Regions from separate parts of the Homo sapiens genome. Here all the other regions are reported to be linked to region 1. Evidence: microRNA targets listed by miRTarBase, many of them from high-throughput screens and not tested one by one. Region 1 holds a microRNA gene; each other region holds the end of a gene's coding sequence.

Evidence for each region. The annotated mature microRNA hsa-miR-4640-5p reads UGGGCCAGGGAGCAGCUGGUGGG and lies in region 1 at 2,949-2,971, shown strand. An mRNA with a match to its seed (bases 2 to 7 or 8) in the 3' UTR can be bound and repressed. Matches are read on the target gene's strand: a 7mer-m8 pairs with bases 2 to 8, a 7mer-A1 pairs with bases 2 to 7 and ends in A, and an 8mer does both.
Region 2: miRTarBase lists ZNF787 as a target of hsa-miR-4640-5p. Seed matches in the 3' UTR shown: 7mer-m8 at 1,065-1,071.
Region 3: the mRNA of LMBR1L is a reported target of hsa-miR-4640-5p. Seed matches in the 3' UTR shown: 8mer at 3,029-3,036.
Region 4: the mRNA of PHYHIP is a reported target of hsa-miR-4640-5p. Seed matches in the 3' UTR shown: 7mer-A1 at 778-784, 7mer-A1 at 2,081-2,087, 7mer-A1 at 2,130-2,136 and 7mer-m8 at 2,147-2,153.

Annotation. Positions count from the first base shown.
Region 1 is chr6:30,887,943-30,892,006 of GRCh38, forward strand. It overlaps MIR4640 (microRNA 4640), which reads left to right and starts at 2,941; the gene lies at 2,941-3,030. It overlaps DDR1 (discoidin domain receptor tyrosine kinase 1), which reads left to right. Exons shown (of 18, transcript NM_001297654.2): 2 at 746-872; 3 at 966-1,068; 4 at 1,260-1,488; 5 at 3,031-3,178; 6 at 3,438-3,537; 7 at 4,060-4,064. The coding sequence starts at 788.
Region 2 is chr19:56,084,805-56,088,868 of GRCh38, reverse strand. It overlaps ZNF787 (zinc finger protein 787), which reads left to right. Exons shown (of 3, transcript NM_001002836.4): 3 at 1-1,503. The coding sequence ends at 846. Among named protein-coding and RNA genes, the nearest start is that of LINC01864, 20 kb to the right of the region's middle. RefSeq lists enhancers at 1,922-2,521, 2,857-3,356, 3,357-3,858.
Region 3 is chr12:49,094,238-49,098,301 of GRCh38, forward strand. LMBR1L (limb development membrane protein 1 like) reads right to left here. Exons shown (of 17, transcript NM_018113.4): 16 at 3,707-3,868; 17 at 2,902-3,502. The coding sequence ends at 3,435. It overlaps DHH (desert hedgehog signaling molecule), which reads right to left and starts at 564. Exons shown (of 3, transcript NM_021044.4): 1 at 1-564. The coding sequence starts at 275. DHH-AS1 (DHH antisense RNA 1) reads left to right here. Exons shown (of 4, transcript XR_007063295.1): 4 at 1,164-1,507.
Region 4 is chr8:22,217,890-22,221,953 of GRCh38, reverse strand. PHYHIP (phytanoyl-CoA 2-hydroxylase interacting protein) reads left to right here. Exons shown (of 5, transcript NM_014759.5): 5 at 67-2,251. The coding sequence ends at 601. Among named protein-coding and RNA genes, the nearest start is that of PHYHIP, 12 kb to the left of the region's middle. RefSeq lists an enhancer at 1,240-1,940.

The DNA of each region.
Region 1 (4,064 bases):
ATGCTGGGTCGAAGAGGATGTGCATTTTTAATTATAATAGACATTGCTAGATTGCTTTCCAAATAGAAGATAACACTCATTTCTGCCATTGAGCATGGTGCCTCCCTTTTCATCACTTTCTACCACTTTTATATGTTACAGCCTTAAAAAAATATCTTGTCAGTCTGCTTGGTATTTCCCTGAGGCTGGTGAATTTGACCATTAAAAAAAATGTTTGTTGGCAATTTGGCTTTGCTTTTCTGTGAAATGACTATTCACATTCTTTGGCTGTTTCTTTATTGGGTTACTTATATATTTTTTCTTGTCAGTTCCTAAGGGGCCTTAGTTTATTGTAGTTATTAAACCTTTTCCTGTTGTATGTGTTATAAACATTTTTTGCACACTTGTTGTTTGTTCTAAGCCGTTGTTTATGGGGATATTTTGCCCATTCCTGATTGGAGAAATGGGGCTTTAGGAAGTTATTTAACTGATCTCTGCCCTAGTTTCTTCATGTGTTAAATATGGATAGTAATAGTATCTACCTTATGAAGTGACTGTGAAGATAAAATTATGGATTCTGTTTAAGGGTTTAGGCCAGTGTCTGGCACAGGGGAAGCATTCTAAAAATATAGCTGATGCTGTTAAACAATGACTGTTGTTGTTGTTTTACTGTTATTATCCCCAAAGCGGCCCATTCTGTCTGTTGCTGTCAGCTATGACTCAGTCCCCTGATTAACTTACGCACCACCCATTTTATCCCCTGCAGAGATGCTGCCCCCACCCCCTTAGGCCCGAGGGATCAGGAGCTATGGGACCAGAGGCCCTGTCATCTTTACTGCTGCTGCTCTTGGTGGCAAGTGGAGATGCTGACATGAAGGGACATTTTGATCCTGGTGAGGAGACTGAATCATGGGTCCCTGAGGGCCAGGGCTTGGGAGGTAGAGAGTTGGGGGCCTTGACCTGTTACATGCCTGCTTTTTACTCAGCCAAGTGCCGCTATGCCCTGGGCATGCAGGACCGGACCATCCCAGACAGTGACATCTCTGCTTCCAGCTCCTGGTCAGATTCCACTGCCGCCCGCCACAGCAGGTACTTGGCACACCTGGCACACTTGTAGCTGCCCCGAGAGGAGCTCCTGGGACCTCTACTTCCCCTCCAACCCCTCTGCCCATGCCAGTGAAACCCCTGCAGGCTGAGGGGGCAAATGAAGTGGGGTTTAAATACTGGAGATGGAGGCAGACCTGGGGCCAGATGTTCTCTGTGCCCCTCTTCACCCTCAGGTTGGAGAGCAGTGACGGGGATGGGGCCTGGTGCCCCGCAGGGTCGGTGTTTCCCAAGGAGGAGGAGTACTTGCAGGTGGATCTACAACGACTGCACCTGGTGGCTCTGGTGGGCACCCAGGGACGGCATGCCGGGGGCCTGGGCAAGGAGTTCTCCCGGAGCTACCGGCTGCGTTACTCCCGGGATGGTCGCCGCTGGATGGGCTGGAAGGACCGCTGGGGTCAGGAGGTGAGACTGGCAGGGGCAGCACCCAGAGGAGGTTGGCTCTCCTCACTTCCAGCTGTACTTTAAACACCACCTATACGCTGACGACTCTCCAGTTTATATCATCTCCAGACTAAGCCTCTCAGCTGAGCTCCAAACAATATTGTAAACCTGGCCACCTTTTGGATTTCTCCACTTAGATGTCTTTTTTTTTTTTTCTAATAGATGGGGTCTTGCTGTGTTGCCCAGGCTGGTCTTGAACTCCTGGGCTCAGTGATCCTCCCACCTTAGCCTCCCAAAGTGCTGGGATTACAAGCACTGTAGCCAGCCACCTAGATGTCTAATAGGCATCTCAAACGTACGTTTAACTTCCCAAGCTGAATTTGATTCCCATTCCCAGCCTAAACCTGCTCCTCCCCTGGCATTCTCCAGCTCAGGAAGTGGTATCACCATTGCCTGGTTGCCTAGGCTATAAGTTAAGATGATATCCTTGATTCCTTTTTTTCTCTCACCTCCTTCCAAAGCATCAGCAGCCCCGTCTGTTCTACCTCCATAGTGTTCCTGAGTCCAGTCACTCCTCACCACTCCACCTCTACTGCCCTAGGCCACCTGCCCGCCATCTCCAGCTTAGATGAGTGCAGTAGATGCCAAACGCGTCTCCCTGCTTCTGCCCTTTTCTGCCTGGAGTCAAATCTCCACCTGGGGGGGCGGCATCCAGTGGACCTTAGAGCATGTAAATCAGATACGTCACACCTAGCTGACACCCCCATGCTGGCTTTCCACTCTGCCAGAACAAAAGCTGAGTCCCTAGCTGGTGCAGGATGCTCAGCCTGACCTGGCTCCTGCCTGCATCACTTGTTTCTTGGCGCCTCCTTGGCCACGCTGCCTTTCTTCTTGTTGCTGGAACAAGCCAGGGCTCGTTCCCACAGCTTCTGGACATTTTCTCTGTGCCTGCAAAGCTCCTCCCCTAAATAACCACAGGCTCTCCCTCACTCCATTCAGTTCTCTGCCAGGTGTCACCTCCTTAGAGAGCCTTTTCTGGCCACCCACCTCACTGCTCTGTCCATACTTCCTGCCTCTTGTTCTTCGCAGCTGTTTTCCCTGCTGGGATCTCAGTCCTACAAGGGTGGGGAGTGACGTTCACCACTGAGAACGCGCCTGGCACAGAGCGGGCACTCAGCCAACTTCTGCTGAATGAACAGAGGGAATGGGCTGAAATGAAGGGGAAGCTGAGGCAGGGGTGCAGGGCTGTGAGGATTGGGGAGAATCTGGGCACAATGGGATGATAGGCTTGGAGACAAATGGATGGAGCCAGGCAAGGAGAAGAGGGCAGCTGAGCCTGAAGTCTGAGGATGGAACATCAGAGCTGCGACAGAGCCAGAGGTCTCAGCTGCAGATCTTCATTTCACCCATGCCTGGCTGCGCCCCACAGTGCTGTGTGCTCGGTGCCACCCCTCATGGGTCTCTAAGTGGCCACTGTGGGCTGGGCCAGGGAGCAGCTGGTGGGTGGGAAGTAAGATCTGACCTGGACTCCATCCCACCCACCCCCTGTTTCCTGGCCCACAGGTGATCTCAGGCAATGAGGACCCTGAGGGAGTGGTGCTGAAGGACCTTGGGCCCCCCATGGTTGCCCGACTGGTTCGCTTCTACCCCCGGGCTGACCGGGTCATGAGCGTCTGTCTGCGGGTAGAGCTCTATGGCTGCCTCTGGAGGGGTGAGTGGCTCAGCTTCCTGGGAATCTGTTTCCTGAGCAGGGGACTGGAGGGTGGGGAGTGTGGAGAATGGGCATCCAGGATCCCTTCTCCTGCTGGGAAGCTGTCACTCTGAGGAGGGGGCTAGCCAGCATTGTCTCCTCCATGCCAATGAGCCAGTGGAGAGATACAAGAAGGGACCTGAAACCTGCCCAGGCCTGATGCAGGGATGGGGGATGGAGCCTTAGTGCCTCTGACCCCCATCCTCTCACCCTGCCCCAGATGGACTCCTGTCTTACACCGCCCCTGTGGGGCAGACAATGTATTTATCTGAGGCCGTGTACCTCAACGACTCCACCTATGACGGACATACCGTGGGCGGGTAAGAAAGGCCCCTGCAGGATATGGAGTTTGGGGTGGGAGGGAGGACTGTGTGTGTGTGTGTGTGTGTGTGTGTGTGAGAGTGTGTGTGTGTAGGGGGGCTGGTAAGTAGGGTGGGGAGTGAGATGGAAGAGCTGAGAAGAGGGATGGGTTAGGTGGGGCCTCAAAGGGTAGCACTAGGGTGACCACTAGCCCGTATGACACTGTATGAAAAAGGCACCCCTTTGCTAACACACATTGTTGGAAATTGCTGCAATAAATATACACATCATAGATTGAAATGGTGCCCCTTAGAGGTGGTGCCTTTGTGCTGGATGTGACCTGCAAGGTACCTGTAGTGCTGGGGTGGGGTGGAGAGAGGAGAAGGGCCAGCTGCATGAGTGTGAGGTGGGATGGGAATGGGACTAGTGGATGGGAGCCAGGCTGGCCATGCCACTGTGCCGGAGGGTGGCGGAGCAGAATGCCTGGATGTCAAGACCCTCTTCCCTTCCAACCTCCTCTTCCTTGGTCCCCTCTTCTCCAGACTGC
Region 2 (4,064 bases), not on the chromosome of region 1:
ACCTTCTCGCAGAGCTCGCACCTGGTGCAGCACCGGCGCATCCACACGGGCGAGAAGCCCTACGCCTGCTTGGAGTGCGGCAAGCGCTTCAGCTGGAGCTCCAACCTCATGCAGCACCAGCGCATCCACACGGGCGAGAAGCCCTACACCTGCCCCGACTGCGGCCGCAGCTTCACTCAGAGCAAGAGCCTGGCCAAGCACCGGCGCTCGCACAGCGGCCTCAAGCCCTTCGTGTGCCCGCGCTGCGGCCGCGGCTTCAGCCAGCCCAAGAGCCTCGCGCGTCACCTGCGGCTGCACCCGGAGCTGTCGGGGCCTGGCGTGGCGGCCAAGGTGCTGGCGGCTAGCGTCCGGCGGGCCAAGGGGCCCGAAGAGGCGGTGGCGGCGGACGGCGAGATCGCCATCCCCGTGGGCGATGGCGAGGGCATCATCGTGGTGGGCGCGCCGGGCGAGGGGGCCGCGGCCGCGGCAGCCATGGCGGGCGCGGGGGCAAAGGCCGCGGGGCCCCGGTCGCGGCGCGCCCCGGCCCCCAAGCCGTACGTGTGTCTGGAGTGCGGGAAGGGCTTCGGGCACGGGGCCGGGCTCCTGGCGCACCAGCGGGCCCAGCACGGGGACGGGCTCGGGGCGGCGGGGGGCGAGGAGCCGGCCCACATCTGCGTGGAGTGCGGGGAGGGCTTCGTGCAGGGCGCCGCGCTCCGGAGACACAAGAAGATCCACGCGGTGGGCGCGCCCTCGGTCTGCAGCAGCTGCGGACAGAGCTACTACCGCGCGGGCGGGGAGGAGGAGGACGACGACGACGAGGCCGCGGGCGGGCGGTGCCCCGAGTGCCGCGGTGGGGAGGGCCGGTAGGGGAGGGGCCCGGGGGGGGGGGCGGGCAGGGCCCCTCGGGCTTGGCGGGAGCGACGACGTGCAAGACCAAGAGACCCAGGGAGAAGCGGACGGGGTGCGATGGACCCCGCGGCATCCCCGGCTCCCCGCCCTCCTCTGTCCCTGCGCCGTCCGTGGGGGGGCACTGGGGCGTATTAGGGCCCGTTCACTTCTCCGCCTCGAGACTCTGCCCCCTCAGCCTGGCCCGCCCTTCCTAAGTTATCGGCCTGCGAGCCGGAGAGACAATGGAGAGAACTGCAGAGGCCGAGTGGCGACCAGGCCCCAAGCGGAAGGCCATTTTCCCTGCTCTTCCTCAGTTGTCCGGGGCGGGGGTGGGGGGTGCTGCGAGGAATGGAGAAACCAGGCCCTTTAGAGGATCCCAGAGAGGGAAGAGAACCAGGGGCCCTTTTCTCTTTTAGAATTTTCTTTTAATCAGCCCACCTTTTGACTCCCCGCCCGCCCCAATCCATTATTTTTTTCTGCCTTCCGGGTCCCATCCTTAGAGCTCGAGTCGTTCCTTCCCCTCCTGGATTCCGGGTAGCAGAGGCAGCGCCGCAGGAGGCGGGTGCCCGTTTGTCCCAGGCCTGGGCGTGGTGGAGGAAGGGGTGCTGGAACAATAAACGGCACTATCCAAATGTCCCCCTCTGCGTGGTTCTTGAGTCCGGGAGGGAGAAGGGCAAGAGGGGTAAACGGAGGCTCTCGCCGGGGCATCAGCAGAGCGTCAGCCGCGCCCCGGGAGTGGCCCGTTGGGTCGCCCGCGGAGGGCTCTAGGCAGGGGGGCCTGTCCGCGGATATCCTCACTATGGTGCGGGCACTCACAGGGCCTGGGAGCTGCTTGTAGATGGGGCAGGGCGGACTGGTCAGGGCCAGGCCTGCCCGCTGCAGGGGAAGGAGCCCCCACGGCTTCTACCACCCTCTCACAGGGGCGGCTGGCTTCCTCCACTCCTATCGTGTGGCCCCCGCCCCTAACCCCAAAAGCACCCTCCTCCTGCCTCCAGCTTCTGGGGGAGACTCTGACTGCAAAGGGCGCACGTCCCCCTACCTGGGTCGTTCACGGGGCTGGTCCCGTGGTTGCGGCTCCCTGCGAAGGAGGCTGGGAGATGAGGTCCCGGCGGCTGCCGCTCCGGGGACAGGACCCCCCGCCCCCTACGGGAGGAGGATGGTGCGCTCAGCTGTCTCTGCTGCAGGGGCCAGGCAGACGAGCCAGCCAGGGGCTGGGGGAGAGGGCGGGTATGCCACAGTCCAGCCGAGCGCTTAGGGCATTTCAGGCAGTGCGCGTGCCCGAGGGGCTTGGTCCGGTAGAGCCGCTGCAGCCGCCCTGCCAGGTGAGCGCTGTTGTTCATGATCAGAAGGGGGCTCGACCATGGCGACTGGTTTCCTGGACCCACAGCCCAGGTCCTGAGGACCCATGTTCCTGGGGCCTTGGGAGGCCGCAGTGAGGGTCCCAAAGGGGTATTTTCAACCTGGCTGAAGGCTGCGATTACTCAGGAGCGATTGGAGGCGGCAAGCTGCAGGCGTCTTTGACTTGGGGGTTTCATAGTAGAGGGGGACTTGAAGGAGAAATTCGGATTTCCAGTTAGAGCCCTTAATCTGCCCTTTCACACCCTGATGTGCTTGAGGAGGGTCCTGGGGCCTCATCTGGAGGCAGGGGGTTTAGAAACCAGGGCCACTGATGGTCTACAGATCCTGGAGGATTTGTTAGAGGACTAGGGAGTGATTGTGGATCAAAAAAGCGTGTTCTCAAGTGGCCAGAGCCTTGCTTAGATAATTGGTATTGCATGTCAGTTTTTGAAATTTCAGGTCACTCGAAAGGAGGGGGTGAACCTTGGCAGTTCAGAGTGGGCTGGGTTAGCAAAGACTGAGGAAGCATTGCTCACTTCTCCTAGGGTCCTTCTGTGGAGCTCTGGCCTTGGGCACTTCTGGAGGCCTGGGAGGATGGGAGGTGCCCTGTCTGGTAGAATTGGCAGCTCGGTGCCCCATAAGTCGGGCACACTGAGTCTCGGGTCAGCCTCTTCTACCTGCTCCAGTATATGGTGGCAGGAGCTGACACCTATAGCAAGAAAGATTCAGGGCAAGTTTCCACCCTGCCCCTTAAGGCTGTGTGACCCTGGGCAAGTGGACTAACCTCTCTGACCCTTGGCTTCCTGCCCTGTGGAAAGGAGAGCTTGCCTGCCTGCCTTGTATGACTGTGTGTGGAGGGGGGAATCCCCAAGCCATGTGTTAACTCACTGGAGCTGCCCTCCCAGGCATGAGCAAAGATGCAGGGGCGAGGAGCCAGGCTCAAATCCCAGCTCTGCACTACTCATCCCACTTTGTAATACAGAACTGAGCGAGCTCACATGACCACCTTGACATCAGCCTGCACCGGACCCAACACCTGACCTGTGCTTTGGTGTCACACGCTGTCCGTTACTGATTCATGCACTCAGGTAGTCATTGCCCACCCCTCACTCACTCATTCTACAAATGTGTTTTGGGCAGCAGCTCCGTGCCCAGTAGGCACGGCGTGGGTCCCAGGTAAAGAAAGGAACATGGGTTCTTGTGGCACTTGCCGTCGGCCCTGTAGTTCACCTGCATTGGAGCTGCTCACCCACGGCAAGGTGAGGCTAGGCGGCCGCTCCATGCTCACAAACCCACCCTGGCAGTGACCGCAGAAGTTCCTTCGGCCCCCATTCCTCTCATGCTCACTTTGGTGGAGGGCACGCCCAGACTCGTTCACGCCCCTTACGGAGTCCAGTCCTCACAAAGGCCCTGTGTGGTTGCCATCATTCCTCGGCTGCTGCTGCTGAAGCTGGTACGAGGAGAGGAAGCAGCCTGCCCAGGCTACTGGTTTGTAAAGTGGTAGAACCTTAATCTGGATCTAAAGTCCTGACACCCATGCCCCCCACCCCCGGCCCCCTGCTGAGTTGATAATCCACTTAATCTTAGGTGTTTATCGGGCACTTCTTTCCTGTGAGGGACTCTGCTAAGCATGGGGGCACAGCAGTGACCTCAACAGGCACAAATCTCTGCTGTCATGGGGGCTGGGAGGGGATACACACAGCTAAGGGCTGAAGGGACAAAAAGAGGCTCTCAGGAGGCAGGAGGTGGAGGAGTCCTGGGCAGGGGGCAGGTGTGACAGGCAATCCCAGGGGGAGTGAGGGCCAGACAGGTGAGTGGAAAGGGACCCTCCACCCAGCTTACTCCCCAGCCTGAAGGCA
Region 3 (4,064 bases), not on the chromosome of region 1:
TTCTCCTCATCCTTGAAGATGATGTCGGGGTTGTAGTTGGGCACGAGGTCCCGGAAGCGCTCGGAGCCCCTTGCCACCCTCCCCTCCGCTGGCCCACTGGCGCCCAGGGTCCGCTCTGGCACGCCGGGCACAAATTGCTTGTAGAGTAGCGGCACGAGCTGCTTGCGCGCATAGCGGCGCCGGCCAACCGGCCCCCGGCCCGGCCCGCAGCTCTGGGCTGGCAGCGCCAGAAGTGCCAAGCAGCACAGGGGCAGTAGATTGGTCAGGAGAGCCATGGATACAGCGGACCTCGGCCAAAAGGGAGCGTTCTTGTCCTCACTAACTCTCCTGTCAGTTAGGCATCTCCACAGGCACCAGAGAGGGCAGCAGGCACAGCTGCCCCCAGAGTGCCCTAGAGCTCTTGTGGCTCCGTGCACCTGGCTGCTGCTAGCTCTGCCCACGTGCCCCGGGAGCGGGCGGGGGGTGTCTAGGACCTGCTACTGACAAACCATCATAGCAGGGAAGGGGGGTCGTGGGTGAGTGCCAGCCCAGCCCGTCTCTGCTGCAGGACTCTGGTGCTGCCAGAACGCCCGGACTCCGGACTCCGCCTTAAGTGGCCCCTGGCCCCGCCCTCCGCCCTTCTCCCAAGACCGTCCCACCCCCTCCCACCCGGGCGGGGGATCTAGCCGGTCACTGCTGGTCCATTTTGCGACTGAAGTGTGTCCCATCCTGGAAACCAGGCAGACACCTGCCTAGGAAATACTTGTAGCTTTACAGTCCTTGGCTGCCTAAACATCCTTCTACCTCCAAGCTTAAACTTGGAACCAAACCACCCTCCTCTGATACTTGAATTGGAATTTTTACTCTCTCAAAGCCTACCCTGGCAGGCCATGCCCTCCGCTGTCATCCAGGAAGTATGGGTTCCAATTTCTGCCCAAGACCAGCCAAGCCCTTTGGGCATACAACCAGAGCCTCCCTTCTCTGTAGTCCTCCCCAGATCTCCCCGACTTCCATCTCTCCTCACATTCAGCATTAAGCAGGACTGGGAGGTGAGGATACCAGGGGCCCATTTCTCTACTAACTTTGCAGTCTCCTTTGGAACTTCCCCAGAACCAGGAACAGAGCTTGGTACTTATTGTCTCATTTAGGACTTCCAACTTTTTTCCCCTTCTCTTCTTTGCCAGGCATCTAATAGCTGCTGTTTTTCAAATGAATGACTTCTCAGTTGGAAGCTGCTGAAGGGCAGTGGACACTCAAAAGTCTTTGTAAGAGGTGAGGATCACTTCCCTTAACCGTCCATCTAGGCACCTCTCCAGCTTTCTCCCTCTCTGGACTCCCGGGGCTCCATTTTCAGCCACTCAGATCTCATCTCAGAGGCACCACGTCCAATTTCTTTTGTTTAGAAGTCATTTCTTCTAAGAAGCCTTCCTTGATGTCCCAACACTGCCCACCTGTGTTCCCTCGAGAACCATTACTTAACTGCAGTGTTAGAACAGTATTAGAATTATCTGGCACCTTACTAGACAAAGCAATCTTAAGCACACACATATTTATCATGTATCTCCAAGGTTAAGTGCCTACTCTACAGAAGGGTGCTTTGCAAGCATTTGTGGAATCTACACTTTGTGTTTCATATTCACCCTCCCCTCACCACACTCTATGGCTAGTACTCATAGCAACTTTGTGTACATCAGAAAAAACCAGGCCAGGCACAGTGGCTCACTCCTGTAATCCCAACACTTTGGGGGCGAGGCAAGGACTGCTTGAGGCCATGAGTTGAAGACCAACTTGGTCAACATAGTGACACCCCGTTTCAAAAAAAAAAAATTAATTAGTGGGAGGTAGTGGTACATGCCTGTAGTCTTAGGTACTCAGGAGGCTGAGGAAGGAGGATCACTTGGGTGCAAGAGTTCAAGGCTGTAGAGTGAGCTAAGATCATGCCACTGCACTCTAACCTGGGTGACAGAGTGAGGACCCCCCCCCCCAAAAAAAAGATGGCTGGGTGTTGTGGCTAACCCCTGTAATTCCATCATTTGGGGAGTCCAAGGTAGGTGGATCACTTGAGCTCAGGAGTTCAAGACCAGCCCAGGCAACATGGCAAAACCCCATCTCTACTAAAAATACAAAAATTAGCCAGGCATGGTAGCATGTGTCTGTTGTCCTAGCTATTCTGGAGCCTGAGCTGGAAGAATGGCTTGAGCCCAGAATGCGGAGGTTGCAGTGAGCTGAGATTGCACCACTGCACTCCAGCCAGGGTGATAGAGCCAGACCTTGTCTCACAAAAAAAAAAAAAAAAAAAAGAAGAAGAAAAAAGAAAAAAAAAGCACCCCTTCCTCAAGATGACTGACATTTATTAGAAAACTATCATAGTAACTATCCACACAATGACTATGAGGTGAATGGTGTCCCTGGAAGCTGTGCAATACACAATCTGTATAAGCCTAAGTTTTGCGCTCTTACTCCCAACATAGCACATGGGCTTTTCAAGAAACTGATGGCCTCTAGTAAAAAGCTAGATTCTTCTCTCAGGTAGGAAATGAAAATCCTTGTCAGCCAGCCACTTATTTTACTCTATATCCAATAGTTAAGCCAGGGAGGATAGGGCTGAAGGTATGAGTGTATCGGGGAGGTTAGCCTACTCCTATGCCCATGTCCTACCCCCAATACTCAAGGTACAGAAACAAGGCCATGAATATAAGGAGGAGTCAGGGGACAAGCCAGCTTTAAGCAAGACTGAGGATGGAGGAGTTTCCCACTGCCCAACTGCATGGCCTAACACCAGATCCAAGTCCCCAAAGGATGGTAATAATATAGATGAAGGGGAAGGAAAAGGATGGTGGGCAGGACCCCTCTGCTTCTCTTACTGGGCAGACGCCGGGCTGGTGGGAGCAAGGCTGTTCAAATATACACAGAGACAGGTGCTTTAAAAAAACAAAGCAAACCCTGGGATCAACTTTATTGCTGATGGCTGAAGCCTCCTCCTCCCTATCCCCTTGGTCTTTCAGGTGGTCCAAAGCCCCTCCAGGATAGCACAGTGCTTAGGCTCTGCTGGGCCAGAGGCAAGGGAGACAATCTATCTCCCGAGCCTGCCCTGGCCCAGTCCTTTCCCTGCCCCTACCCCACCCTATTGCACATCAAATCATGTAAACATGGCTATGGGGATGGCCCAGAACAGCAGTGAGGCAGATTGATGTGTAAACAGATTTGGGATCAGGGGCTAGACCCAGTCACCCAGCCCTACCCCATGCTGAGGCCACAGTTAAGTATGGAAAAGCAGGAGGTCCTGGTCCCAAACTCTGGCTCAGATTATGCAATAGTGCAGATGGCTCTGCTCCCCTCTGCCACCCACCCTCTCAGATTCCAGGTCCTGAGGTCCAAGTAGCCTTGGGCTTCCCTCCAGGCCTAGGCAGCAGATGGCAGTGTCCAGTTTTTTCCTTCCCACCCCCAGCTGGAGGTCACTGGTGCTGGGTCTTCCTAGATGCCTGGGGGAAACCGGAGACGGGCAGCGGCAGTCTGTCCAGCCCTGGAGAAGAGGAGATGGGCAGTCAAAAGCAAGTCAAAGGTCCAGTCCGTTAGGGACCAGGCAGCCAAGCCACAGAATGTGTGGATGAGGTACGTTACCCACAAAGCAGGAAGCACACCCTCTCCCCTGCTGGGGTGATCCATGTTCCAGAGTGTCCTAGATGATTACCACCCCCCACTAGCCTGCACCCTCACTCCCTCTCACCAAAGGCCCGGATCAGCTCTGCCCGCACAGCTGCAGTGAAGGTCTTCACCAGACAGAGTGTGGTGAGGCCTGCAAAGGCTGCGTTGTAGAGGAACACAATGTAGAAATTGCCCAGCCAGTTGAAGCGTCCAAAGTCACCCAGCAGGTCAAAGCGAGTGAGCCCTGAAGCACAAAGGCCAGGATGAGAGGTGGGCTCCCCAGGCCCTTTTCTGCTACCAGCCCAACTTTCTGCTGCCTCCTGGTGGCCACATTTCAACACTGCAACTGATAGGTTGGCCTCTCCCAATTCTACCACCCAAGCTGTCTCAAGAGCAGTTCGGGACTGTTCTAAGTGCCAGCAGCTAGGCTTGCTTCAACT
Region 4 (4,064 bases), not on the chromosome of region 1:
AAGCCTCAGCCCGGCTCACCAGCCACATCTTCTCTTCCCTTTGGTGTGTCTCCCTGGGGTGGGCAGGACCCACTGCGGGAACATGCTGCAGCCTTACCTGAAGGACAACAGTGGCAGCCACGGCTCCCCCACCAGCGGTATGCTCCACGGGGTCTTCTTCAGCTGCAACACGGAGTTCAACACGGGCCAGCCCCCGCAGGACTCCCCCTACGGCCGCTGGCGCTTCCAGATCCCAGCTCAGCGCCTCTTCAATCCCAGCACCAACCTCTACTTTGCGGACTTCTACTGCATGTACACGGCCTACCACTACGCCATCCTGGTGCTGGCGCCCAAAGGCTCCCTGGGGGACCGCTTCTGCCGCGACCGCCTGCCCCTCCTGGACATTGCTTGCAACAAGTTCCTGACCTGCAGCGTGGAGGATGGGGAGCTGGTCTTCCGCCACGCCCAGGACCTCATCCTGGAGATCATCTACACTGAGCCCGTCGACCTGTCCCTGGGCACCCTGGGGGAGATCAGTGGGCACCAGCTCATGAGTCTGTCTACTGCCGATGCCAAGAAGGACCCCAGCTGCAAGACCTGCAACATCAGCGTGGGCCGCTAGGGACTCCTGGGGAGCTGGGGGGCGAGGGAGAGATGAGCGGAAGGTGGAGGTGGGTAGCCCAGGTTCAGGGAGCTGGCTTTCTCTCTCCTGCCCCCCTGCTCCCTCCACTCTGCCCAGCTGCCCTCCCCTCGCCCCTTGGCATTGGAGGCAACAGACGGTGGTCCTCTTGGTAAGTGTGGCCCACACCCAGCCTGGTGGACATGGAAAGGCTTCTCAGCCTCTGTAGTTGGCAGCTGGGCTGGACTTCTGGAGAACTTCCCCTTTCCTCTGGTTTCCTTGTCCTACTGTTCTTTGCCTCGTCCAGGTCTCTATCTCCCAAAGACCTGCCCACCTCCTGGGCTCTCCCAGGGAAGCCCCTCTGGGCCAAAGCCCATGGGTAGCTTGGCTGCCTCCAGAAGAGATGCAGAGAGCTGTGGGGCGATCTTTCTTAGTCCCACTCACCCCACTCAGGGCCAACCACAGAATGCCCCCTCCCTGCTGAGCTGGGTCTCTGGGGCTTCCCACTCCAGGCCTGGATCCCTTCCTTCTATAAATAGTCTCCTGCACCACCGTGACTCCCTGGCTGCTCCTTGCCCCAAAGAACCCTCTTCCTGCATGGGAGAGCTGTCCCTCCTTCTCCACCTGCCCACCGGGACACTCCCCCTGCTCTCTAGAAAGGAACTCTCTTTCTTCTCTTGGCACTGGGGGCGTCAGGCTGTCGGATGTTCCTTCCTTCCATACCCCAGCATACCTTCTCCTTGCTTAGAGTGCAGGGGTCTGAGACAGCAGCCACTGGGGTTGAGGAGGGGGAGGAGACCCCTGAGACCCAGAGGTGCCCCTTCCTCAGCTGGGAGTGGGCCGCCTCATGCTCTGCTGGGGCCTGGCATGGAACGTGAGACCTGTAAGCTGTCCCGCGGGCCCCGGCACCCCGCCCAGCTGTGCACTTTGCTCACTCGCTCTGCCATGGTGCCATGACTGTACTGTGCCCATGCGTGACCTGGACTGTGGACCCTCTGCTGCTCCGCCTCTCCCCTCCCCACTGGCTCTGTCTGCTCTCCTGCCACCCTGCTGGCCGGGAGCCCCTCCCCGGGGAGTTCTTGGTGAAGTCCTTCCCGGGCCTCCTTGTGTTTTTGCCTCATTCCTACTGTCACACAGGTCACGAGGGTGGACTCCCTACAATCAACAAAGCAAACAGAGAGCCTGTGGGAGGGGCTGACAGCAGCAGCCGGCTGTTTGGGGGATGATGGAGGTGACATCAGGCAGAGGAGAGTGCAGCCTCACAGTGACTTTCTCAGAGGTGACAGAGATGATGGATGAGCAGCTGGATTTTCGTGATGAAGGACGGAAGCAGCAGCGGGCCGGCAAGGCCATACCTCGGTGAGGGACAGGTGGACAACGGTCACCTATCTGTAGCCAGGGGCAGTTGTGTGGCCAGCTGTCTCTCTGGGATGAGTCAGGAGGCCTGGAGGCTTGGGGAGAGGTGTGGAGAAGGAGAGAACATGGCCCAGGCCCTTTCCTTCCCCCTGTGCTGACAGCATTGCTGTGGGGGTGGCCCACTGCCCTCCCCTGGCCCTCATGTCCCCCCGGGGCTGGGGTCCGCCTGCCTGTGCTGTGCTTGCGACGTGCATCAATAAACCACCATGGCCTGAGGGCCCTGCTCGTCTCAGTCCATTTGAGCTGCTGTAACAAAATACCACACATTGGGTGGCTCAGAAACCGCAGATTCATTTCTCATAGATCAAGGTGCTGGCAGAAGCGGTGTCTGGTGAGGGCCTGCTTCACAGATGGCTCTTTTCACTGTGTCCTCACAGGGTGAAAGGGACTAGCAAGCTCTCTTGCCCCTCCTTTTTTTTTTTTGTAGACATGGGGAATTTCACCTTGTTGCCCAGGCTGGCCTCAAACTCCTGGCCTCAAGTGATCCTCCCACCTGCTTGGCCTCCCAAGGTGCTTGGGATTACAGGCATGAGCCACTGCTCTGGGCCATCTTGGGCCCCTTTCATAAAGGCACTAATCCCATTCATGTGGCCCCACCCTCATGACCTCATCGCCTTCCAAGGCCCTGCTTCCTAAAACTATCACCTTGGGGTTAGAATTTCCACCTAGAGCTGGGTGAGGTGGCTCACGCCTGTAATCCCAGCATTTTGGGAGGCTGAGGCAGGTGGATCAGTGGAGGTCAGGGGTTCAAGACCAGCCTGGCCAATATGGTGAAACCCTGTCTCTACTAAAAATACAAAATTAGCTGGGCGTGGTGGTGCATGCCTGTAATCCTAGCTACTGAGGAGCCTGAGGCAGGAGAATTGCTTGAACCTAGGAGGCGGAGGTTGCAGCAAGCCGAGATTGCGCCATTGCACTCCAGCCTGGGTTACAGAGTGAGACTCCATCTCAAAAAAAAAAAAAAAAAAAAAAAAAAAAAGTCAACCTAGGATTTAGGGGGGACACAAACATTCAGACCATAGCACCCCATCCCTTTGGGCCAGTGATGGTATGGGTGAGTTCTGCAAACCACAGAGGAGCTCAGGTGGGAATGCCCCCAGGACAGGCGACCTGAAATCAGCTCCAAGGGAGCACCTCGTCCATTGTGGGAGGCGGGGCTCAGGATGTAGAGCTGAGTCTCCAGCTTGGAAGGGACTTTGGAGTCTTTTGGTCCCACCCAGTGTTTCCCATATGGGGCCTCCCACATGGGGCGTCCTAGGAGAGGACTCACAGCATCTGGAGGCCCCGTTTGGAGCTTTTGAAGCCTTCCTACTACAGCAGCTTGCCATTGCTCCAGACCCAGATGCCACCAAATGTCCCTGTCCCAAGTGCCTGAGTGTCCCCGCTCCCCAACACAGCTCCCGTTTATAGATCCCAGTCACCTCTGCATCTATCATTTTATTATTATCATTATCATTATTATTTTTGAGATGGAGCCTCGCTCTGTCACCCAGGCTGGAGTGCAGTGGCACGATCTTGGCTCAGTGTAACTTCCACCTCCCAGGTTCAAGCAATTCTCCAGCCTCAGCCTCCCACGTAGCTGGGACTACAGGTACATGCCACCATGCCTGGATAATTTTTGTATTTTTAATAGAGATGAGCTTTCACCATGTTGGCCAGGCTGGTCTCGAACCCCTGACCTCAAGTGATCCACCCACCTCAGCCTCCCAAAGTGCTGGGATTACAGGCATGAGCGAGCCACTGTGCCTGGCCATTATTTTTATTTCTTGAGACAGGGTCTTCCTCTGTTGTCCAGACTGGAGTGCAGTGGCACGATCATGGTTCACTGCAGCCTCAACCTCTGGGGCCCAAGTGATCCTCCCACCTCAGCCTCCAGAGTAGTTGGGACCACAGGCGTACACCACCATGCCCAGCTAGGTTTTTTAACATTTTTTATTTTGTAGAGATGGAGTTTCCCTGTGTTGCCCAGGCTGGTCTCAAACTCCTGGGCTTAAGTGATCCTCCTGCCTCCCAAAGTGCTGGGATTACAGGCTTGAGTCACTGCACCTGG